2 separate regions of the Homo sapiens genome follow, and region 1 is linked to region 2. The links come from fine-mapping of genetic effects on gene expression. A gene starts in region 2. The other region holds a variant in brackets. All regions are shown on one strand. Distances are between the middles of the regions. Region 1 overlaps LMO3 (LIM domain only 3). Region 2 holds the start of LMO3 (LIM domain only 3).

What was found. PIP is the estimated chance that this variant, and not a neighbour inherited with it, causes the effect.
Region 1: its variant is fine-mapped to the expression of LMO3 in subcutaneous fat (GTEx, PIP above 0.99).

The regions. Positions count from the first base shown.
Region 1 is chr12:16,573,692-16,586,360 of GRCh38, reverse strand. The region is part of intron 2 of LMO3 (LIM domain only 3); the gene reads left to right. It also overlaps a transcript of MGST1 not described here. Among named protein-coding and RNA genes, the nearest start is that of LMO3, 26 kb to the left of the region's middle. The variant G/T (reference allele first, on the strand shown) is at 7,336.
Region 2 is chr12:16,598,904-16,611,572 of GRCh38, reverse strand. LMO3 (LIM domain only 3) reads left to right here and starts at 5,411. Exons shown (of 4, transcript NM_018640.5): 1 at 5,411-5,507; 2 at 10,705-10,918. The coding sequence starts at 10,713. RefSeq lists enhancers at 1,089-1,588, 6,477-6,977.

The DNA.
Region 1 (12,669 bases), 25 kb after region 2:
TTCTCCATTCATGCACGTGTTTTAGTTGTTTCTTAGTTGTTCCGTATGTGGACTTCATCGTATCATGACATCTTAACACTCTGTGTTCTTGCCAGAGATTACAACTTCAAATGCTGCTTTTCCATTCTTATGTTTTAAGAAGTCATCTGAAGGAAATAGTATTTATGGCAGATTACCTGAAAAACTGGATGTTGAATTATTCCTTGTGATGGTTTTTAATTTATCCTTCCCTGTGTCTTTGATCTTGACCCCTATTGTTTTGGCCCCTCAAAAATTTTTATGGAATTGTACATCAAGGTTTTGCTGTTTTCCTGTGTTGAAGATTTTCATTAACAGCTGCAAAAACATCAGTGTCCTAAGGATGCTATTGGGGACTTTGTTTACTGTATCACACAATGTCCTACCGCCTCACTGGTGAAATGTCGCCCAGATCTTAGGATAAGCAAGATTTCTGAGACTATAAATGACTAAATGATGTTTTACTTGGGCCTGTGAATCATATACATGTTGACATTTTCCCTCTTTTCTTTGTTTCCTGGGAAGCCCAGATCAAATTTACTTTCTAACAATTGTTTAGAAGTATATATGTTAATTGATTCTCCAGCCTTTTGTAATTTCTCACCCATATTTTCCTTTCTATTATTATATTTGGAGCTGCTTACATCACCTGAGGATTAGTTTTGACATCATTCAAATGAAATCACTTAAATAATTGGAATGGGTGGACTTCAACGGAAAGAAAATACAGGTGGGAACATAGGGCCTGATGCATGAGAGATGCTCAGATAGCTGAGTGAGAGGAATTTAGGAAAGGGGAGATTGTGATGAAATTAGTTTTCTAATCTGCAATTATATGTAAAATTAGGTGAATTTGAATAATATTTGGGAACAATATTTGAAACAACATTTATGCTCACTGTGTAGGATGAAGATGGTAGCAAAAATAACCTTTAATATAGGTTAATATTAATCTTTGTGGCCAAGTGATTGTTTAACATAAAGTTAATCCACTTTTTAAAAATATATACACAAATATGCAAATCCTTTTTCTTGAAGCAGTAATCAATAACTTGTTTTCTACCATGATACTTGAATGTAAATAAAATAGGCTGAATTATTTATCTTGCCAAGGGCTAAGACGGGAATTACAAACTCAATTGCCTCCAGGTTCCGGAGTCTGGAAGGAAAAATAACGTTGTGAACTGGGGCTTGCATGCGCCACCCAAAGGGGGAAGCCATGACTTAATTCCAGCACACTGTACGAATGTGGGCCTAATGTTGCTGATTTTTCTGGATAAACCAGATATTTTTTCTAGATATTTCAGTAAAATCTCTTGTATATAAGACATTGGCAACTAACTCTAATGTGGCACACAGCTACTAGTATGTAACTTTTTGGTCAGAATCATAAAATTCTGGTTTCAGATAACTGATCAGGCCCTTTAATGTGTACAGTTCGCTAAGGTGTTTGAAAATATTTCCTCGCATCCTGAATTCTTGAAGAGAGGATCAGAGCCCTTCATCCAATGTATACCAGTTACACTCCTGCTTCAGAAATCTCCTGGGAGCTTTCAGCCTAACAAGGAGTCTTGGCACTGCTTTGTGAGGCGAGAAGCAGCCCGTCCTGATAAAAGAAATCTCTTGCTGTTTCTTGAACTTCATGGCAGCCATTGCAATATGTTTGGACTTAAGTGGGATATTTTCTGGGACCCTCACTGTGCCAAAGCTAAGACATCTGAGGCCATCCACCTCTAAACAGGCCTCTTACCCCCCCCACTCCTCCACTTGCCAATGTTAATCTAAAACGTCTCTTGTTTCCATTCCTTTCCTCATTCTCTGTATATTTCTGCTGTTACGTTCACTCAACACTTTTCCACTGGGTCCTCCAGAAACCTCATGTCCTTGTCAATAACTTTTGCTGTGTCCACAATCTTTTGGCCAGATGCCTTTCCCATCAAAATATTGTTTTAACTGAATTTCATCTGTTGCCTTACCTGAAACTTGCCTCTCCTTTAAGGAGGCAACTTTTCTTTCAGCTGTCAACAGGTGCAAGGTACTACTTACTCATGTAAATCCCACATTCCATGAAGCCAAGAGGAGAAACTGGCAATCTTAGATACACATAACTCTCCCCACTCACTACTAAAAAATGCATCCTCCAACAAAACTCGTACATCTAATTATACTACCTTTTACCCCTACTCACTGCTGTCATTTCCCTCTTACCACAATTCTAGGGATTCTAAAAGGCTTAGAGATGACTCACTTGAAACCAAGCCCTAACTTGTTGAGCCTCCTTGACCCTACTGAACATCAGCCTGCCATCCCAGAATTATATACAGTGTCTTTTCCTTATGGAAAAGTATTTCATCTCAGGAATCTTAAACTCCACACTGTAGTCCTGTTTCACTTGTAATAGCACTGATCTTTGATTTCAGACATTCAGCTCTCCTGTCATGTCTCTTTCTCCTAATTTGGTCAAACCTTTAAGACTTCTATCTTTCCTGCCCACTATGAACCCAACTGTCAATCAGGCAAGTCCCCTTCACTTCCATCTTCTGTGTCTCCTCCCATGCCTGTGCTAGCTCAATTTTCACCACTGCTCCAGTCTAACAAATTGCCATGGGTATGCTACCCTTTTTCAATCCATTCCTACAGTGTGGTTAAGCATTGCTAGAAACAAGCAAATAACATACAGATTGATATTCCCTGATGTTTTTTATCAGGTTTGATATAAATCAGCCTCTTACATTTTATCTGCTTTTCCATTTATCTTTAATTTCTTTTATCCCATCTATGGGAATGAGGTCTTCCTATTCCTTCTAAGGCCAATTTTATGTCCTTGGCTCCATTCCCTCCAGTATTCTGTGTGTCTTCATTTTATGAGGTAACTTGTTTTTCTTCAGTCTTTAGTATCTTCTTTTCTACAATTACTTGACTGTCAACATATGGCTGTACCCAAGATTTTTCTGTTCTGTAAAAAGATGCTTTATCCCTCAAATTTATGTTACTGTTATCAATTCCCCTATTGTCTAATTTTTTTAAAAAAAAAGAACAGTCTGTTGTTGTCATCCATACTCCCTCAACCTCCTTTGCACTCCTTACCCACTTGTGATCTGGCTTCTGTCTCTCACCACTCTGCTGATACTGCTGTTACTGACATCCAATTGCTAAAGCCAATGGGCATTTTATCCGGGATCATCTTACAGTCTCTCTTCTCTTTTAATAGTGTTGATCATTTATTCTCTTTAAAAGCTTTCTACTGTCTTGGATGCCATGACCCTACAGTTTAGATTTTTTTTTTTTTTTTTTTTGAGGCGGAGTCTCGCACTGTCACCCAGGCTAGAGTGCAGTGGAGTGATCTCAGCTCACTACAACCTCTGCCTCCCAGCTTCAAGAGATTTTCCTGCATTAGCCTCCTGAGTAGCTGGGATTACAGGTGCATGCCACCACTCCCGGCTAATTTTTTTATTTTAGTAGAGACGGGGTTTCGCCATGTTGGCCAGGCTGGTCTCGAACTCCTGACCTCAGGTGATCCACTCAATTTGGCCTCCCAAAGTGCTGGGATTACAGGCATGGGCCACCGTGCCCGGCCTAGTTCTGATTCTTTTCTGGGCGTCTCATCCCAATCAGATACTTAAAAGAGTGAGGGACCGTACCTAGGAACGGTGATCTTGTTGTGGTATACTTATTTTTCCTAGGAGATGTTATTTGTCCTCATGGTTTCAATCCCTCCTCTTATTGTGATGGCTCAATCTCTACCCGTAGCCCATTACTCTCCAACAAGCTTAAGCAATGTATATCTAGCCACTTCCATAGTATCCACAATTAAGTGTTACACAGGAAGCTTAAGTTCAAAATATGTAAAGCAGCTTATGCAAAACTAACATAACTCTAATACAGTACCTTGACCTGATAAAGACAATATAAAATATAAAACACTAATGCTATTTTTGCATACAGATACAAAAACTTGAAAGATATTAGCAAATAGTCTGTCACTGTCTAAAATGAATAATACTATAGGAACAGGTAAGATGTTTTCTAGAATTCAGAGAATGAACACCAGGACATATCTCAATCTAATTCATTGTATTATCAAACTGGAGGAAGAAACACCATAGTTATGGCAGTCTGTACCAAAAAGGCAATTGATAAAATTCAGCCATTTCAAAACTTCCAAATAAAGAGAAACAGGAAGAAACCAGTTAAATATGATTAAGAAAATTTACTGAAACCTAACTGCAAATTTATAAAACAGCTAAATACTAAAGTAATTTCCATTAAAGCCAAGAAAAAGCCAGGGATACTCATTATTGTCCCTCATATTTAATGTTTTAAAGGGTCTAGCCAATGTAATAAGATAAGAAAACGAAGTAAATAAATATAAATAGTAAAAAAGATAATTATTTTATCTGCAGAAAATCGAGAAAACTCAAGAAATAGGTACATTTAGCATAGCAGCTAAATAAAAAAGTAAATCAAATTTATAGTTTTATTCTATGCCAAAAATAGCTTGTTAGGAATATAAAAGAAATTAATAAAGAGTAGTAATACAATTATTAAAATATATATGCTTTAGAGTTCAGCATTCATATGAAGAAATCTTTTTAAAGGAAAACTCTGCTGAAAAAAAAGTCCTCTATTTTTCTGTTCTTCCCTGCTAGATAAGTATCACAGAAAAATCTCAATGAGACTGATGGTAAGCCTGTTATAATAGCAATGGAATTTTGAGTGTTTGTTTTAACATTGTGAAAGAAAGTCAACAGAATGAAACTCAGATCATGGCAAATATTTCTTGAGGATTTACTCTATAATGGGTAGTGTTATAGGAACTGAGGCTCCAGCAGTTAAAAAAATGGACAGAAATATTTGCCTTTATGTATCTTATATTTTAGTATTATTTTTCAGGTATTCTCAATGAGTTATATATGTGCTAAGTGCTGTACAGATGTAATCTCCTCTAGCCCTTGGGAACTACAGTATTATTAAACCCATTTTAGAGAAGAAGGCACTGAGGCTGAGGGTAATTAAGTCATTTAGTCAAAGTTCCCAAGGTGCAAGTGATGGAGCTAGGATTCAAATCCAGACAGTGTGACTGACTCCAGAACCCATCCTTATGAGCTGTACTCTAGTGTTTAGTGACTGAGGACATGGCTTCAGGGACTTACTCCGAGGTCCCCATAAATTGATCCTGTCATCTGTAATTGAATTTTCAATCATTCAAACTCAAGCACTGATGAACTTCCTTTGTTTCTCTCCAGATAACCAATGGTTTTCTTGTACCTAACTATTTACAATGTTGATTAATTGTAGATTAGAAAAAAATTTGTTAGTGGCTGCAATTTCATCAAAACATTAGTTATAAAATAGCACAACAAACATAAACTTGAGGGATGACTGAATGTCTGTGTTGTATATAGCATGTCCAATACACAGTATACTTATTCATAATAGATTTAAAACAAATAAGGTGTTAACAGTGGTCAATTCTGTTTCTTTGTATAATTAATAAAAGCTTTTATTGCAAAGCAACTATAAGAACATCGTGAAAAATTTAACAATAGAGATTAGCAAAAATGCAGTAACAAAATCACCATGATTCTACCAGAACCTACTAATGTTTGCTCTAATTATTCATCATTCCAAATCTTTTTCTACCTGTATTTATGCACATGTATGTATTTTTTATCAAATTGAGATTGTATTTACATTCTGTTTTGTAACCTAATTTTTTAGACTATGATCTACATTTTTCCATGCTAGTGAAATTTTATATAATCTACTACCTGATCCTTGTTCAGATTTCTCTAGTTGTCCCCAGAAAAGTCCTCCAAAGGTTTTCCAAATCAAGATCCAATCCAAGATTTCACTTTACATCTGATGGTCATGTCTATGAAGTTTCTCTTAATCTTGAACATTGTCATTTTCATGACATTCACTTATTAAAGAGACCATAGAAGTGGTCCTCTAAAATTTTTCACCTACTTCATTTGGTTGGTTGCATCCTTGTGGTGTCTTTGCTCTTGATCCTTCTATTCCTAGTGCTCCCAGTAAAACAGAAGTTGCTTTAAACATTGACAAAATTCAGATATTGCCAGAAGCAGTGGCATGCACCTGTAGTCTAAGCTACTAGGGAGATTGAGGTGGGAGGACCACTTGAGCCCAGGAGTTGGAGGCCAGCCTGGGCAACATAGAGAGATCCCATCTCTATTAAAAAATAAAAATAACGTAGGTGTATATTTTGTTTTAGAATACATGATAAATGATATCATATTGTATAATATCAGGAAATACATAATATCTGTTATCTCACTATTTGTGACACTTAAATTGATCATGAGATGATAAACTGATCCTGCTTTTGTACAGTTACACCTTTCTCATTGTGACCAGAAAGCACCCTGTGCAACATTACTTAAATACCAACAGATACCTGGTTCTCTGTTGGCAATTAAACCTAGTGGGTATAAATAACAATGGATAATCATTATCTAAATCAGTACAGGTTGAAAAATTAGATTGTCATCCTATCACTTCTACATTTATAAGCTGGTATTTTTCTGTAAAGTATCGCATTCACTCGGCCACTGAATCTATTGGTCATTCTGAAATGCTATTTCTACTGGAAAAACAAGATAAAAATTTTCTGAATTCTTACTGAGTGCCTAGTAGGCTAGGTGGGGTTGAGAGAGAAGAGGCAGCCTCAGCCTTCCTACTGAGTAAGACTTCAACTAAAGGATTCCACCAACGTGATCTTTCTTTACTTAGAGCCATTACCCTGGCTAAGATTCTAAAATCTTTTTTTCAAATTATTAGGCCATAATGCCGACAAATAAGAAGCAAGGGAACTATTCACTTATACATCTGCGTTGGCTTTTAAGCTACTGATATACCATCACCAAATTGTTAGTCAATTAAATGTAAACTTGGAAGGTTATGTAAATCCTACCAAAAAAATTGTTTCTCATCAGTGGCATCAGGCACATTTGATTTTACTTCTTTTCTGAGGCTCACCAAAGACCTCCTTGTGAAACACAGCTATTGTTTTTCTGGTAATAATTATCTGAACAAATTTGGACAATTCTTGTTCTTGGTTTCCTAATTCTATTGGAAAACAGCCAAACCATTTAATGACGGTTACCCTAAATATCTAAATTATGTGTATCTAAGGGAATATATATATACAATTTAATGCTAGAAGAGAAAACATGTTGTTCTCTTCAAAAAAAAATCCCTGTGGAAGTTTATGACCTTTATAATCAGTGCCTTTTTAAAAAACTAAGCTCTAGAGAGTGTTTGGGTTGGAAAAGGTCACCTATTTGCAATGATACA[G/T]TCTGTCAAGAGTGTGTACAAATGTAATATACTAGACCTTAACAATGCAATATACTTCATTAGAATAAAGAACTTTTTCTTTTCTTTTTATTTCAAGTGAGACTTTGTTAAGTATAGAACCATGAATTATTTCTCCTTGAATATATTCTTCTAGTGAATTAATGTTTTGTTGTTGTTGTTGTTGTTGTTGTTGTTGTTGTTGTTGTTTGAGACAGAATCTCGCTCTGTCTCCCAGGCTGGAGTTCAGTGGCTCGATCTCGGCTCACTGCAAACTCCGCCTCCCAGGTTCAAGGAATTCTCCTGCCTCAGCCTTCCAAGAAACTAGCATTACAGGCATGCACCACCACACCTGGCTAATTTTTGTATTTTTAGTAGACATGGGGCTTCACCATGTTGGCCAAGCTGGTCTCGAACTCCTGACCTCAAGTGATCCACCCGCCTCAGCCTCCCAAAGGGCTGGGATTACAGGCATGAGCCACGGCGCCCGGCCTAATGTGATTTTTATTTTAATACTTTGAAACTTTTATACCTAAGGTCAGACCTGAGCATGGGCCAGCCTGAGACCATCTACTCCAAAGAGAGCACAACTGCTTCTTCTCTTCCCTGTTCCTCCATCCCTTCTACCTGACCCCTCCCCTTTCTCCCTCTACCCCATGTAGAGTTAAAAGTAGGAAGTTATTTTTAATTTATATTGTTCAGGTAAGCTAAGTAAAATACAATTGTTCTCAAACTTGAGTAGTTTATACAAGCTTTGGAAGAAAAAATTCTCTTAGAATTCCCCTAAACATTCATTGTACATGAATTTGAGAAAATTGCAGTACTGTCACTTTAGGTAGTTAGTTAACATTTTCTAAGTTTCATGAAACTATGAGTTTAAAGAAAAACTCAGTCTCTGTTGCCTGGCAAGACTTCTGGGAGGCGATGAGGTGCCGTGAGCAATGAGGACAGAATATATTTCTTATGAAAGTTGTTGCCTACTGAGGACTGGAGTCCATTGTACATCTAATTCCAAATGAGATGGTGGAATTAGTTGTAGTGTTGCCAGACAAAATACAGGATACCCAGGTAAACTCAAATTTCTGATAAATAATGGATAATTATTTTAGTCTAAAAATGTCACATAAAATAATTTGTGATCCTAAATCTGGCAGCCATAATTAGGTGACACATTTAGAAGAAAGTTAGAAAGAACTGTGGCCCTGTTAAATTGATCCAGAGAACCATCATGGGCAACCTGAATATTATTATGTTGGTGAGATGGAGCCATTGTAAGTTATTGAACAGATGAGTGAAATGAGGAAATTACTGCCTTAAGGAAAAAAATTCTCCTCTAGATGTGTGCAGAATGATTTGTTATGAGATGAGAATGTCCTTTCTGTTTGTTTGTTATTATTCTTACTTGTCCTCTTCCAAAACTATACCACAAACGTTTTGTGAACAGGGGAAATTCTTATTTGTTTTATTATATACAACATCTAGTAGAAAATCTGGCTGATAATAGGTACTCAATAAATATTGACTGGAGGGTAGAAGGAGGGAGTGGGGTAGAATAATATATTTAGGAATGCTGAAATAAATGCAATAAGATGACAACCTATATGATGAAAATAATGAAGAATAACTGCCAACTACTTAGGAAAATGTGATTTTAATAACTCAGCTTATTTAGGAGGCCTTCATGGAAGAATTGTGATAAGAGATGGTCCTAGAAGCTGAAAAGGAAATTTAGGAGATGATCCTAAAAAGAAGAAAGTTTACGGCCTTTCAGAATTCAGGTGGGTGTTGGTGCACCTTCTGACTGTCTGCCTAAGTTAGGTATATAATATCATGCTGTTTGTTAACTCTTTAGAGTAATGGGGTAATGATGGTAAAGAAATATCACTAGATATGAGGGATACAGATGTTACCAGTCACAAGTTTTCTGCATCTGCTAATATTAGAATTCTGATGTGTTGGCACCTAAACCATCTTGAGTGTGATCAAAGACAGATGGAATTGGTGCTAAGTTTCAGCAAGTAGATTCTCATGTTGCCTAGCAAGCTTCCAGTGTAGTTTTACTCATATAGCTTTGCCCTTATTGGGTTATTTCTAAAATAGATAGTTTAGGAAAGAACGTGGGGAGGGTGGTATAATCATTTCTTTGTAACAGCTTTTAAGTAATTTATTTTTGACTTCCACCTACAGGTCTTATGTCCATTGTACACTGAATTTAAAATGGTATTTAAAAATAGATGGTACTAATCTAGGGGTCATAAGTAAAATCCCTGTATGCAGTCTATATAGTTGGACAATGCAAGAATGTTAATTTCCATTTATATATCTCTACATTCTAATTCAGCAGTTATGGAGCATATGAACATCACATGTGTTAGGTGCAGAGTAAAGGAGAAGGCAAGTTTTCAGGGAGCTTATTATGTAGTGAGAAAGAGACAAACAGGTACGTAACTGATACAGATTCTGAAAGATGAAGTAGTATATGAAAACAAGTGCTTAAATGTCTAAAGAAGTGTGTTATTTATTCTGCCTCAAGGAAATCAGAGAGGCTTCATAGATCCATTGACATTTGATCTGAATATGAAAAAAAAGCAGCAGTAGTCTTCCAGGAAGAATAGATTTAGTAGGAACTCAGCAGGCAGGAGTGGTAGGACATCAGGTGTGAAAGTAGATGCTGAGTCCAGGGAGTAGACAGCACATTGGGGCTGAGGCTCAGTGATGGGATAGAAGACAGAAAAGAAGACAGACAGGATGGACCTTTCATGCTTCCCTGCATCTATCCTGCATACAGTAGGGGAGCTATGGAAGGTTATAAGCAGGATCAATGGGTTGGAGCTGTGTTATAGAAAGGCTACCGGCTGCAGAGTGGAAGGCGGACAGCAGGGCAGGGCAGGCTGGTGGAAAGATGTTCAGCTGGGAGGTTGTAGTATGAGTGCAAGGGAGAAGCGATGCGCGCTAGAAGTAGCTTACTGAGACAAAAGAGGACAGATCCCCTTTTAACACAGCGGCAGGGCTAGATTTGGGGGTCTGAGAAGAGGAGGCAAATTCAAAGTTAAGTTCAAGACCTGTGGCTCGAGGGACTTGCAAATGTTCCGACATTCATTTCTACGTGCATTGAACATGGGGAGAGGGAGGGTAATGTAGTCTGCAGAAGAGAAGGATGTCACGTAGGGAGAACTAGACTGTAAGGCCCTGGTGAGTAGAAAGTGAAGAATTTAGCTTTATGTATAAGCACTTCCTACAGGTCAGGACATGAAAAGTGATCTTTAAGAGGTAGTAGTGAATAGCCTCTGAGGCTCCTTCTGTTGTTCTCTTGACACAAGAGGGGAAATCCTAAATGGCTCAGTGTGTGGAGTCCAGCTCTCCTATTATCTATCTATGTGACGCTGGGTGTATTACATAATTCTGCATGCCTCATTTTCCTCATCCATAAAATGGATGAATAAACCTGCCTCATTCAGTTGTCCTGAGGATTAATGAAATAACTCGTGTCAAATGCTTAGAACAGTGTCTGGTACAGAGACAGGGCTCAATAAACATTAGCTCTTATACACTAAGCCCTTACATAATTGACCAAATTTCGTATTGATATTGATTTCAGATGTTTCTTTAAAATGTAAGCAAAGGGAAATCTTTGGACTAATTTGTCTAATTTGCGGAGGTATCATTATCAGAGAGGACTTGGTCTTTTAGTTGCTTTTTCCATTAAAAAGGCTTCGTAGACAGTATGACGTTTAGTGTGTGGAAATTGACCTTATGCCTATATTTTTGAAGATAAACAAAGCTTCCATTTTAGTGGGGTTTTATTCATATGGGTTTATTTATGAATTTTGAGCTGCAAAAGAGAATAGGGAGCTTTTTATAAAAACATGACGGACATCATAATGTTAAGTTTAGATTATAACTTGGAAGTCAGTACCAGGTTACATAATACTGTAGATTGCCCTGTTATGTTTTTCTAGGTAAAAATAAACAAACGAAAACACCTTTTCTTTTGTGTGTTTTGTGTTTGTTTCTTTTTGTTACTAGTTTGTCATACTATGTATCATACTTCAATTGAGGGTAAGAAAGGAGGTGCCTTATGTAGGGAGCACCCTTCTAGGTATCAGAACACATAGACTCGGACTCGGCCAGATTTCTATCACTGCTGTTAATGACTATGAGATCTTAGACATGTCACTGCTACCTCTCTATACTTCTGTTTCCCCACTCACAGAATGGATGCCACCTACCACCTCTCAAAATGTATGGTAAGGATTAATTTTTCTATTACAGATTTATAGAAGACTTTCTTTTCTAATGGCCGATAAATCCTTTGCGGTTGGAAACAAGCCATTTTTCTTCTTTATGTGTCTTGCAGTTAACAGAGCACAGATAGGAATTAGCTCCATTGTGTCAGTAAGAAAACTGAGATTTAAAATTTAAAAAGTGGTACAAATAGGGGGAAAGTTCCTAAGTCACCTTTTATCCCCTACCTAAAACACATCATTGGTTAAGTGCTTTGAACCTGTCAGAAAGACTATAAGAAAAAATACCAAGTAATATCAGCCTGCTAGTCTGGGCTGTTGGGAATATCTATTATGCCATCTGTCACAGGAGATTTTAGGTTGGAGAGCAGCAAATCCGTGACTGGGGACTCAAAGTTCAAAAGCAGAAGGTCTCTCCTCTCTGCACACCGTGTGGTGTCTAAATCACTATCCGAGAGACAGGCGTTTTCGTTGATCAGACATCCTGCATCTGCAACTTCATTTAAAAATAAAAGGTTTAAAGAGTCATCGTTTATACATTGTTCCAAGGTCCCTGTAATTTAAATCAATGTGATCGAGATATGTAATACAAAATTTCTAGCCCTACTGTCTTCCTCTAACTTACTCTGGGTCTTGGTGGTGTTGCATTTTTATAATGGAGCAAATCGGCAGAGTAGGTGGAGGAAGGTTGGTTTTCCAAAGGGATCAGGTAAGCTGCAGGTCCACGTGGACACATTTGTTACTTCGGGGAAGCGGGGAAGCGGAGAAGCAGCAATTAGGCAGTGGAGTAATGCTCTGAGGGGCACGGACTCCAGTTCCGTAATACATTCCTTTCTTAATGTGACTTGATGTAGATAGAGTGAGGGCCTATCAGGTGTGAAAAGCCCTGCTGCTCCTGGCGTGGAGTGGCCTCCAGACGGTGATTTGGCGACGTCAATCTAGTCATGCTTGATTTCGACACTTAACGTGGTAAAGCAGGATTTCTCTACCCCCGATCAACTTCTCAATTAGCAAGCTGCCTTGTGTAACGGCCTTGTTTTGCAATCCCTCAGGGCTGCTTCAGGGGTCATTAGGGTGAGAAAACTTGAGCACT
Region 2 (12,669 bases):
AATATTAACTCTTTGTCTTAGGATACTAGTCCACATTTTTTTTTACCAGTAAGAGTAATCTTGTTGCTGGAATTATTTAAGCTACATATTTCTTTAGCACGGCAAAATGAAAGTGAATCCTAGGCACCTGTGTGTGGGAAAGTAGTCTACAGCAAAGCCCAGAGGAGCTGGGTGAAACACCAACCCAAAGAGATAGCGACCAGGGGCAAGCTAGACACAGGGGTTTGCCAACTTGAAATATGGGTTCTCTCAAACTTTGTGTTTGCCTTATGGCCTGGGGCTTTTATTCAGTATAACATTCAAATTCCTAGAAAAACAGCTCACTCCAGTTCTGCACCTCAGTCCTGTGGGGGTTAAAAAAAAAAAGATGAATGTAGCTATGAACTCTGTTCATCTTCAACCTAATGGACTCACCCTCCCTCCCCCATCTCTCTTTCCCTCCTCCTCATAACACCCTTTGTCCACTTTTATGAATTAAAACATGCACACACACTTGCACACACAGGGAATCCTGCCCATTAATTAAAGGACTTGTCAGCCCCAATCCTAGATTCTTACAGTGCAGGAAATGTCTCTCCTTTTAAGTGCAAAACCATAACATTACCATTTCCCCAAGTGCTCTCTGTTTTAGGCTGCTTTCCTAATTAGAGGGATGATAACAGCCCTGCTGATTGGCATTATAAAAGCACTAGTTTGGCTTCATCTGTCCCAGGTGTGCTGTGTAATTTTTTTCTTCTCACCGTTTCAGAGCACTACCTCTCTCCTTCATTGTTCCTTAAAGTTTTCATCTGAGGAATTAATACAGATAAAAAGACATTAGAAAGGAAGCACCACTGCCAAAGCTCATCACTGAAACCTTTTATCAAAAGTACAAACTATACAAGTTAGAGGATTTTTTTTTTACCCTTTTGTTTCTGAGGGTTAAGGGGGTGGGGTGGGGGTGGTAGTGTGGAGAGGAAAGGAGAAGAGAGGCTGGGGGAGAAAACACAGCTCTGTCAATGGACTGAATGCACCATTAAAACTGGCGTCACTACAAAGGTTAGAGCAGATCTAACTGTCAATACAGTGAGTAGAGTGGAGTCCGGTAAGGGGGAGCTTTGGTGAGAGATACTTTGATATTTTGGAATGTTAGAAGGGTGAATGTGAAAAATTGGAGGTTGGGGATCTAATTACCCAACCATAATTGGGGGCTAGGGAATAAGTTGCAGTCCTCTCAACTCACCGCAGATCAATTATGTTAAGAGAACATCTGTAAGTAGAACTTAATGAGGTCCATTAGAGCAACATGTACAGCCTCCTCTAACAGTACTTGTCAGCTTCTTGGATGAGCTGAAGGAAGCTGCTAACTAGGGACCTGGCGAGGTGTTTAAATACTGGAGGAGCAGCTCTGGCCCACTCAGGTTTTGTATGCAGTTCGGGAAGAAAGTGAGAAAGGGAGAGGCACACAAGAAAGACAGGAAGCCTGAAGCAGAGGTTTCTTTCATTTGTGTTGCTGAATTTCGAAGAGTGATGGTGGGAGTGTGTGTGGTGGGGGCAGTATCAACCTCATCCTTCCCTTGACCGAGACCTTTCACTGCTCCTGGACTTTCAGGGTGTGCTATCCTTTGCCTCCCCCCAACAACCTGTCTGCTGCCCTAAAAAAAAAATTAAAAAAAAAAAAGACGGCAACCTAACCGGAGCATCTCTGGGACGCCACAGAAATCGTAACTGAACACCCGCACACAAAAGTAATCTGTGAGGTGTGTTTTAAAGAAAGAAACAGCTGAAAACTTGAAGACGTGTTTAGAAATATACATATATACACACTATTTTCTTGTGGGAGATCTCCTTTGGGCAAAGGTAAGTAGTATATATCTAATCACCCCCTCAGCACCCTCCTCCACCCCATTTTGTCATTCCCCTCCCCTTTTCCCCTCATCAAGGTATCACAATATAAGACCCCTGAAGAAGACAGTCTGCCTTTTTTTTTCCTTTAATAAGTGTTGGGATGGGGGCTGGATGAAGTAAATTCTCTCATCAAACGTCTGATGATGAGTTGCAGAAAGAGGGCACAGGCAAAAGGTAATCGGACCAAAAAGATCTGGCTCTTTATAGCAATCCTTTCGCAAAGATTTCCAAAGGATCTGTAATTAAACTGGGTAGTTTACTCTCAGGAAATGAAGAAACTGCTTGCCTGGCTGGATCCAACCTTTAGCTTGGCTGAGTAAACAAAAGCACAAATTCTTCTTTCACTTTTTCCCTCGCGGGAGGGGTGAGACTTTGGGGTTGGGGGGAGCCAGGAAAACAGGGAGTTTGCTGAGGGTTAATGGTGTTTTTCGCAAAGTGTCAGCAGAAGATGATTAAATTCCACCTCTTGTTCACCAGATCACTTTGTGTGCACTTGTATATTTCATTGTCGGCAACCGCTGATGATCACATCTGTGCAGTACATTAAGTGGCAAGCCTCTTCATCTGCACGGGGTTTTTCTGATGATTTTTTCTGTGAATAATTCATATGATTATGAAGAGAAAAACTGCTATTTTCTATCTCTCTCCCTTCTGTAGCACAGATTAAAAAAAATCTTGCTGTAAATTGCGTGATTGGGGAGATAGCCTGCTTTCAAATAATTTAATTCATGACAAAACCTAATTACTGTCAGGTAATACCCTGTCAGCTTTAATGCATTTCATCAGTCATAATGAAAAGAAGAGCATTTTATGACCCATCTAATTATCATTACATTTTAGGGGAAAATGAATGGCATGGAGCTGAATGTTAACTATTCCATTTTATTCCTTTACACATGTGGTTTGGCATATTATTCGCTAAGTTCCTCTCTCTCTCTCTGTCTCTCTCTCTCCTCTGTCTCTCCTTCTCTCTCTCTCTCTCCTCCTTGCTTGGCAGTATTACTTGCTTATAAGTGTGGGGGAAATGGTAAAATTGAGAGGAAAAGGAAGATTGGGGAAAAAGGAAGAGGATGGGATGCACTTAGAGATCTGGGTGTTTGTCCCTTAAGAAAAAGGTGACAAAGTGGTTAATGTCTTTGCAGGTTGGTGTTGATATCAGGAATCTTACTGCCACAGTCCAAATAGAGTACTAATTACCGCGAATGATGTCACCGTAGGCAGAGGAATAATCCCATCATTTAATTAGTTGAATGATTTAAACAAAGATTTGCATAGATGCACTAATCAGTTGCCATGAATTACAGAGCAGCAGTTGCCAGCGAGGGGTAACAGATCATACAGTTGGAGGGAAAAAAAATCTCATCTCCTTGAACATAATTAATTTAATTGTCCTCATTAGCTGTACCATTTGTTTTGATTTTATTTCTCCCTTTCCCCACACATACTTCTCCCTCCCTCCCTCCCTCTTTTCTTCTTCTCAGTGCATTGGCTGAGACAGAGCGCACGAGACACACACACATGCATGCACACATATGCACACACACACACTCACACATACTGGGGTGTTTTCAGAGTGGCTGTAGCAGAGAGGTGGGGTAGAACAGTGGGGAGCTGTGCGGATGGGTGAAGTGCATGTATGCCTGCCTAGACGGGCCAGAAAAGCCAAACTTAAGAAATCTGCCTATGTACAGAACAAGTCAACTAAGGGGTTCTCATTAATCTACCGTCTGTGAATATCGTTATTTTTCAGGTTAGTTCTGAGTTTTGTTGCCTTTTAAAGGGAGAGGAAAGCAAACCACAGGCTATTTTATTATGAGCCTTCAAAAGGGAGGGGGTAAAAACTAGTTATCAATGTTGTGCCTTTATTCTTTATGAAGAAAAACAAAATTTAGCTTAAATACTCATGGGGGGGGTGCTTTGATTTTTTTTTTAAAACTAGAGCTAGATTAAAACTGATGGTGAAGAGAAGAAAAAAAGTTTTTTGTAGTTCAACAATTGAATATTTCTTGGCTCTTAAACATTTCAGTGAGTGTCTTTCAAATGTGGACCATTTTTAAGCTTGACCTCTGACAAAGCTTTGTAAAATCTGGTGAGGGTACTTTAAGAGCAGCCCAAACAGAGGGTGACTTTGAAGTTTGAAAACTTAGAAAAATAATAAGGTATTTTAAAGCTACCAGTGGCCTTTATAGATGCCAAGGAAAGTTAAGAGGAGAGGAGGTTAGAGAGAATGGGACCTATTAGAAAAAAAAAAAAAATCTGTCAAGGCCTTAAAACAAGCCTGTGAAGACAAAGCAGTAATGGTGCAGAAACTATGGTTCTTTGACCAAGTTAGTCCTGAAAACATGTTTCTCAGTGCTGTTGGCTGTTTTTCATTGGAGCGTGTGAGTTTTAAATAGTAAGGAATTCAAGTAATTGCAGGAAGTGTGTTTCGGGGTGGTGGTGGTGGGGGTCAGCATTAGTGAATGGAGAACAAGTTCACAGTTTGGGTCTTGGGCCATTAGAGGAAGGGAGGAAGGGAGGAAGGAGAGTGTGTGTGTGATCCCCTGAACCAGGCTTGTGTGGCGGACTTGCGGAGCAGCGACTTCAGAGAGTTCATGAATGGAAGTCACAGACAGACCAGCGACTGCAGCCACCTCCAGGCATTTCTTAAAGGGGAGGGTTGTGTGCTTTTTCCAGGGTATTCTGGTAGCAGTTTGATTCTCTTGCTTTTATTTTAATTTCCATAATTGGTAGCTTCAGAAATGGCTTTGGAAGGCAATTTGCTTTAAATGTAGCCACCTATTCCAAAATGCCCTGGTTATTTTAGGAACCCTACCCTTTTCCTCCGGAGCTCTCTCGCAGGAGTTCTTCTTTTGGACTGGTCCAGGAGGTAGGGTCCTTCCTCAGTCGACTCCTGCAGAGGTCACATTTTGTGTGCGGGTTTGTCCCCAGCGTTTGTGAGTAGCATATGCATGTGGTTGTGCTGACTGCACTCGCAGGCTTGTAAATTTTCACCCTGGGAAATTAGCAACAAAGCCCGATCTGTCTCGTGGCTGCTTTGCACTTTCCGAGGGCGGCTGTACTTGACTGAGCTGCAGAACAGGCACACGAGAGCGAGCGAGGGAGCCAGCGAGAGAGGGAGGGAGAGAAGGAAAGAAGAGGGGAGGGGTGGGGGCGAGAGGTAAATAGTCTTAAATCGGAAGGGAGCTGCTTCTCTGTGGTCTTGACAAGCGCTGCCTGGGCTCCGCCGGCTCACTAATAACTGAGTGACCTTTTCTTTGGCTGTATTATGTCTGGCTGGGAAGGGATTGCATTTTGCAGCTGAGAGCCGGAGCTTCCTTCAGCTCGGCTCCTCGCACGCTGCTGGGGTAAGTTGTCTTGAACCAGGACGGAGAGAGACAGCCTCGGACTGCAGTTGCCTAAAAGGAGGACACCTGTGGCTCAGATGCGGTCAACACCATTGCTTGGCGTATCCTTGAGGACCTCATTATTTTAAACTTAAAAAAAAATAGACATTCCCTCCCCCGTCTTTTTTTTTTTTTTCAAACAATGCTTCTTTTTGACCTTTCCCAAGGAGAAGCGCTACAAAGCAGCCACTGTGCTTACTGAACGGCCTCCCCCTGTATCGCTTAATTGAGAAGGTAAGTGCAGCAACTGTGTACACACGCGTCGGCTTATTTGTGGTGTGTGTGTCTGCGGGTGCGCGCGTGCGTGTGCGGATGTGGGTATTTTTTTCTTCCCCAACCTCTGCTAATGAGGCATAAACTGGAGCTGCAACCCAGCTCCGCACTGCAACTTTCACTCGGGCTGCAGCTCTACTGAGACGGTTTTGTTTAAATCATGTGAGGCTTCATTATTTTTATGATGAGACATGAAATAGATGCAGGCGGAAGATGTTGATGGAAGGAGGGAGAGCGGCTGCGGCGCGGAACGTCTCAAGTACGACTCGAGTGGATAATAGTCAAAGTTCACCATGAACTGCAGTATTTCCACACCCCTGACTCCCGGGGAGAGAGGGGCAGGGAGAGTTTGGAATTAGGAAGTGTTTGCTCCCAGCCCATAGGAAAAGAATTCAGTCCTGGGTGGGTTTCCGGACCCCTCCCCCTTACTTGCTGGAATTCATGAACCCCCACTTCTTAAAGAGTTGATATTACAATCTTTTGGTCCTTGTTGACGCTTCTGCCTCTCTCCACGCAGCCATAATAACAAAATGTTGTTCCTTTGCCGTGGAAAAGTGGCTGTGTTTGGGCATGGGGGCGGGGGGGGGGGGCAGGCGGGTAGGGGCAGAAGTGGCTAGAAGAGGGAAGGTCCCTGGACCAAGGTGCCTATATCCTAATAGATTGAGATTCAAACTGATGCAGCACATTTTTTACGGGGACTACTCAGATTGCTGTTATGAAATACAAGTCAGATTTATGATCTTTTTCATATTGAACATGATATGCTATGCTAACGCTGCATGTGACAGTTTAATCAAATCCATTTGTTACCAGGAAGCTAAAAGGGGCCGCTGGGATTTTAGGATTACGGGCAGAGTTAGGGAAGCATGTGGCTTTGTCATTCGCCATCATTTTGCACACTGCGAGGGGCTCCGTGTGTGCGCCCTGTCTTGTCTGGCCGTCCTCATCCCTTCCCCCACCCCCTGCCGCCACTCCGACCCGCTCCCAAAGTGGCTTCACAATAGTCGGTCCTCGGCGGTGTAGGCTGCGCACCAGGTCCACACTTAAGCGAAATCAAGGAGACCCCCTTCTACTTCTACCTTTGGGTTTGGTGCTCAATGCGAAGCTGCTGCAACTCAGACACGCCTAAGTCAACTCATGCAGAAAAAGGAGAAAAGTTTTGGTAAGGTTACAGTCTATCATAGATGCACTTTGCTGGCGCTCTGCACTCCTGGCCGCTCAAAAGCCTTTCTGCTTTTCCGCTGCTTTTGTGTCTTTCTGAAAGAACCGAAATATTATTGTTGTAACTGCTTTGAAAGACTGCTGCTTAAACCAATTAATCTTGCTAGATGCAACAAATACTGCTACATTCTTTGCAAACCATCCCTGTGTGGCTGCAAAGACACAACCACAAAAGGCTGGAGCATAAACTCCGCAAGGGATTCTTTGTTAGAGTGTATGTATGTTTCTTATTTTTTTTTTTTATTTTGCATGTGAGCTGCATCAAAATTGAACTCAGTCTTGCAAATCTCTTGTTGGCCTTTGCCAAGCACTAGCACTTTGCTGCCATGGTAACTGTAATTAAACTGATAAGAGTGGAAAAATGTCAGTATCTCTGAGCCTTGCAGCTGCATTGGAGAAAAAGGGAATCAAATTGGTTCCCAGCTCCATTGCTCAAAAAGGGGAGGGGGGTGAAGGATAGGGAAGGGGGCTGGGAGTTGAAGGGGCAGAACAGAGTTAAGCAGCTCCAGTGCCTGAGATCTGGGGACATCTATTTGCATTGTTGTCCCTTAGGGGGCTGCAGCCTGTAGGGATGCTCTGGGCCAGTGAACAGAGAGAAACAAGCTTTTAGGCCCAATCCAGTTTTCCAACCTGGGTTGGGGGCTGGGAAGAGGATGAAGATGGGCAGGAGGAGAGAAAATCTTTTGTCTGGTGCCTCTTGGCAATCGAATGGCCATGTTGGCCAAATTCTTTTAATCTGTGTCAATGCTCCCAGCTGCAGAACCTGCATTCCCATTTTAGCATCTTTCTGAAGCACCTCATCTCTTCCAACCCCCTTTATGTATTCCCTCTTCCTCTTCCCTCTCCCAAATTGTTCTCTGTGAATTTTCCGACGGACAAAATGTTTTCTATTCACTCTGTGTAGTTAGTCCAAAAATGTAAGACTGTGTCTAAGTGCTGCAAATCTTTCATTATTATTATTTTTTTTAAACCCCTGTGTGTTGTGGAGTTGTGGTTACTTTGTTGTGTTAACTACTGAAGCTGAGACTGTGCGGATGAATGGTACAGAACAAGGGAACATAATGGAGGCAATCAACCGTTAGGCCGCTTCACAATGCAATCCAGGCAATTAAAAGCTCACCAGAGTTTAAATGAAATGGTTCTACTTATTTCTGCACACCACACTGCACAGGCTATTATTTATGTCTTTTTTTTAATTATGATTTCCCTTAAACTGTCAAATAACTCAGAATGGCAGGGTCTCAGAGGCAATAAGAATTTCCCTCAGAACAATTTACATGCCAATCTAAAACTAGTTATGAGTTCTGATGTGCTATGAGCAACTTGTGAAATGTTTCTTAGCTACAAACACGTAACTCTACCCAGACATGTTCTTCTGGTGGAAGAGGGGAGACTGCTGACTGCTTTATGCCTTTTAAGTACACGGTAACATGGTGACTACAAAATAGTTCTTTTGCTACAATTGTTAACTTGCATGGAATTCAAGAGATTCCATTTTCAAGAGAATTGCCATGATGTTCTTCAAATAAGGTACCAGGATGGAGTGTGAAATATCAAACTCCTTTTATGCCCAAGGCCAAACAGAATGTAAGAGTTTCAAATATTAATTGGCCTCTGAGTGCTAAATTAAAATGTCAACACAACAAAAACATTTTGTGAAGACAAGTAGGGTAGTGTTACTTGTGCCAAATGTTGGTATCCCCTGTCTTGGTTGCAAAGCATTTTGAATAAAACAGCTGACCTTCTATGCTTGATGGTAGAAACACAACTGTGGGAAATATAACTTAGCTGCTACTGGGATTTTTTTTTTTTTCGATTTTTCATCTTTGAGCTTTGTGATAAATAAAAATAATAGCCTTACAAATTTAATAGAATGGCCGTTAATTAGGATGGCTTAATTAGAATGGCTTCTCTTAATATTTATTATCTAGGTGTTTTCAGTAACACCATCCAGAATTTCACTGAGTAAATCAAAACTTCCCCTTCCCCCTAGATATGTGGTTAACAGGCACTTGGATCTGTTGTTCACTGTAATTAATGGGATTCACTCCTTGTGGAACCTTGCTAGAAGAGGATAACTAGTTCTGATCAAAGAAACTTCATTTGTTAGAAGTTCTAGAGAGTGAGATTTAGCAGAGCTATCAAGGGTTATGATTAATCTACACTAGGCCCTTAGCTCCTTCAAAGGAAAGGAACAGAAAGCAGGCTATAGGGATACCACCTGCTCTTCTTACAAATCCAGCTGTTAGTCTGCAGCTCCGGTGACTACAGCTATGCTTATGATGCAGAAAGAAAGAACAGCTACTCTGCTTTATTTCCTGCCATTCCCTACACAACTCTACCAGACGAGTTATTTTCTAATGAAAGTTCAACATCCTAACAATATTTTGTGCAACTCATGTATTATTTGTAGTTAGAAAAGTTATTCCGCTCTGCGGATGCCTTGATGTCTCTTACCAGTGGGATTTTTTTTTTAAAAGGTTGTGAAAGTTGTGATGGGGGTGAAGCCTTCATCATAAGATATCAGAGGAAACTGGAGGAGGTTTAGCTGTTTTGGAGAAGGAAAATGTACAAAAGTGCAGATTATAGCTTGACATTTCTTATCCTATAATGCATGCACATTTGGTGTTTTGTATCCTTCTACATGCAAGTTTAAAACTTTATGCCTAGGAGAGCAAACATAATGCAGCAGAAGGGTCTCTGGACTGTAAGAAGGCCATTTGGCTGGAGTCTATAGCGTAACTGTCTTTCAGCTTTGAGCAAGTCTCTGAACCTCTCTTGGGCCTCGGTAACATAATTTGTAAAATGAGGGAATTTGGAATTGATGATGTCTGCAGTACTTTATAGTGCTTAAAATGAGTTATTTGATAAATATGAGGCATTGGATAGTTGGTCCAGCTTCTTGCTAAAGCTGGGTGTTTTAATACCTAGGAAATAAGAAGACACTCAAGGTGAATGTCCATTCATTCAAAAGATTTCAATCAAACTGTAAAGCCCATGGAATCCAGCTGGATTCCTTATTTATGATGGATTTATACCTTTAAAATATATAAATGTTTCTATGTTTAGCATAGTATACATATAACATGTATATATTTACTTATATATGTTTGTATAATTGTATATATATTTAGATCTTGCCTTCTATTGTTTTTTCTTTCCTTTATAAAACAAATAATTGCATGTTTATGGTAATAAATGGTATAATCATATACTTTAGGTTTACATAAAAGCATATAGTATATAGTTAAGTAATCTGCCATTAATATAGGTGCTGACTGATGCTTGTGAGTATAAATGTTATATTTGAACACAATGAATACTTTGAAATATCAAGGACATAGAAGAAGTATTTGGATGCAAGCAAGAAATATAGGATTGGTGAGCTTTTTGGGTAGCTGTTCTGTGTACTTAACTATAAACACCTCTACTGCTGAATAAGGTTAGTGTAACCCCATACCAGGTGCCCTCTCCTTCCACCATCAAGCACATATTAAGTGAAATTTTTAAACAGTTAAGCAAAACTCATTTTTTTACTTGTAGGGACTGTGCATAGATTAATTTGTTAAATAGCTTTCTTTTCAGATTGTTATTTACTCACATTTTCTTTCTAAAGGAACTGCTCTATGGGGAGAATGAAGATACTATAAAATTATTTAATGTTATTGAACTTCATATTTATAATGTCAATTTACCATGGTCAACATGAATTTATTATTATTGTCACTTGGCATGTGTAACTTTTTGAATGATTTAATAAGCACTTGATAAAGTTTGAGACTTTTTGTTTCCAAAATTGGGTTTGATTTCAGTATAGCCCTAAACAAGAAAAGCTAACACTCCTAGAATAAGGAAATATTAAATATTTAACTTGTTTGAGGTCTTTTTATTCTGTCTGGTAGTCTCAGCTCTCTTTTTTGCTTTTGTCTTCCTTTAGGTATACAAATGCTCTCAGTCCAGCCAGACACCAAGCCGAAAGGTTGTGCTGGCTGCAACCGAAAGATCAAGGACCGGTATCTTCTAAAGGCACTGGACAAATACTGGCATGAAGACTGCCTGAAGTGTGCCTGCTGTGACTGTCGCTTGGGAGAGGTGGGCTCCACCCTGTACACTAAAGCTAATCTTATCCTTTGTCGCAGAGACTATCTGAGGTAGGAATTATCCTTGCACACCAGTGATGACTGGATGCCTTTTAAAGTACTTTTGTAAGTGTATTTTTTGTTTGCTTGTTTCATTTCCTTACTGCCAGCTTATATTCCTGAAAGAAGTTACCTGTCAGCCTTCAAAGCGTTGCCCTGTGTGTGTTACTCAAATTAATGCTTAAGGAATAGCCAACAAACCACAATATTTAAAGTATTTCAATTTGGCTTGCCTGCACACTCAGGCAGTTGGTTATGGCGCTGCCTATGTTGAAACTGCCAGTTAATGTCAAGGATGTATTTGGTCGAAATCAGCATTCAGGTTGATTTACTTATTTTTTCTTTTTTTTCTTTTTTTTTTTTTTTTTTTTTTTTGGAGCTTAAGGGGGAATGGGGGTTGAGCATAACACAAAGAAATTGATCAGCCATTTGGCAAAATATCTTAACTATTTTTAAAAAGTTCAACTTGAAAAAAATGGACTGTGTAAAAGAGTTTAATTGTTGCCTCTAAGTTGGACCTGAATTTAGTCTTCTAAAGTTATTCAGCTGTCTTCTCTGTTTCAGGTGTGTCAGAGGAAGTCAGGTGCAAATCCTTGGTTAATATCTATTAGTGCATTTATTGTAGAGTTTTGAAAACTTTCCCCAAGTGTAGATACATCTTCCTCTCGCCCCACCTCATGACATTCTAAACGGGAATCTCAAAAATACAACTAAGCAATTGAACCGCCTCAGACTTGCCAGTAGTTTTATGGATAATAACAAAGTAAAGACCTCCATCATTATAGGAAAATGACAGCCACTCTCCAACCTGTAAACATCTGAATGCTTTCAGGACAAGGCAGGTGTTCTTGGTTATGGAGCTATGAAGCCTACTAAAGCTTGTTTTCCAGCATTAAGTACTCAACACAGAATTTCTGCTGAAGGAAAATTATTTTGCTTTTCAGGCAACTTTGTGACTTACTTCAGCTGCAAATTACTTATATTAATAAAGTAGGATCTATCAAATTAGAGAAATGATATATGGCATCATTGGGATTTTCATATTTAATACAATTTATCATTTTTCTGGTCTGACATTAAGCGATTTATTTGGAATTTTTTCCCTTATGACAAAATTTATCAATCAATGGTAACTCCTTTAGTACCTTGGTCATTTGATGAGGTGTTTTCTAGGGAATTTGGTCGTTCTTAGTATATAATTCAGCTATTTTCAGTCAGATCCAATCTTTAGATATAAAAATATATCATTTGATTAATGGTAGTTACAAGAGGGTGAAAGCGGTACTGTTTATCAGATTCTACTCCTTCTCGCTCTTAGGACGGCCTCATCTGACAGCCTCCTGACTAATTATGGCCACTTGTTACTACTTCTCTGTGTTCCAAGTGCGTAAAACACATGCAAGGTGCCAACAATGAGAAGTCACTCTCTCCAGCCAGGATTTCCCTCATTGTGTTGGCACAACGAATCAAAATTAATGTACAATGTTCATTTTTTTAGAACTCTCCGGTCTTTGAACTTTCCTCTTTGAAATAAAAATTTCTCTTCTGCCCATTGTGAATTAGAGCCTCATTTCCACATAAAGCATTTGTATTTGCTTTTAGTGATTTAATACTGCTTTTTAGTTTTGCTTTATCTGTACTAACCAATAGTCATAGCTTTTTGACTCCTTTTGACTTTTACATTTGTTTGTAATTTCAGTATCTCAAGTGGATTTATGTTACCATTTCAAATAAGGAGTTTATATAGCCCGGGCAATGTTAAG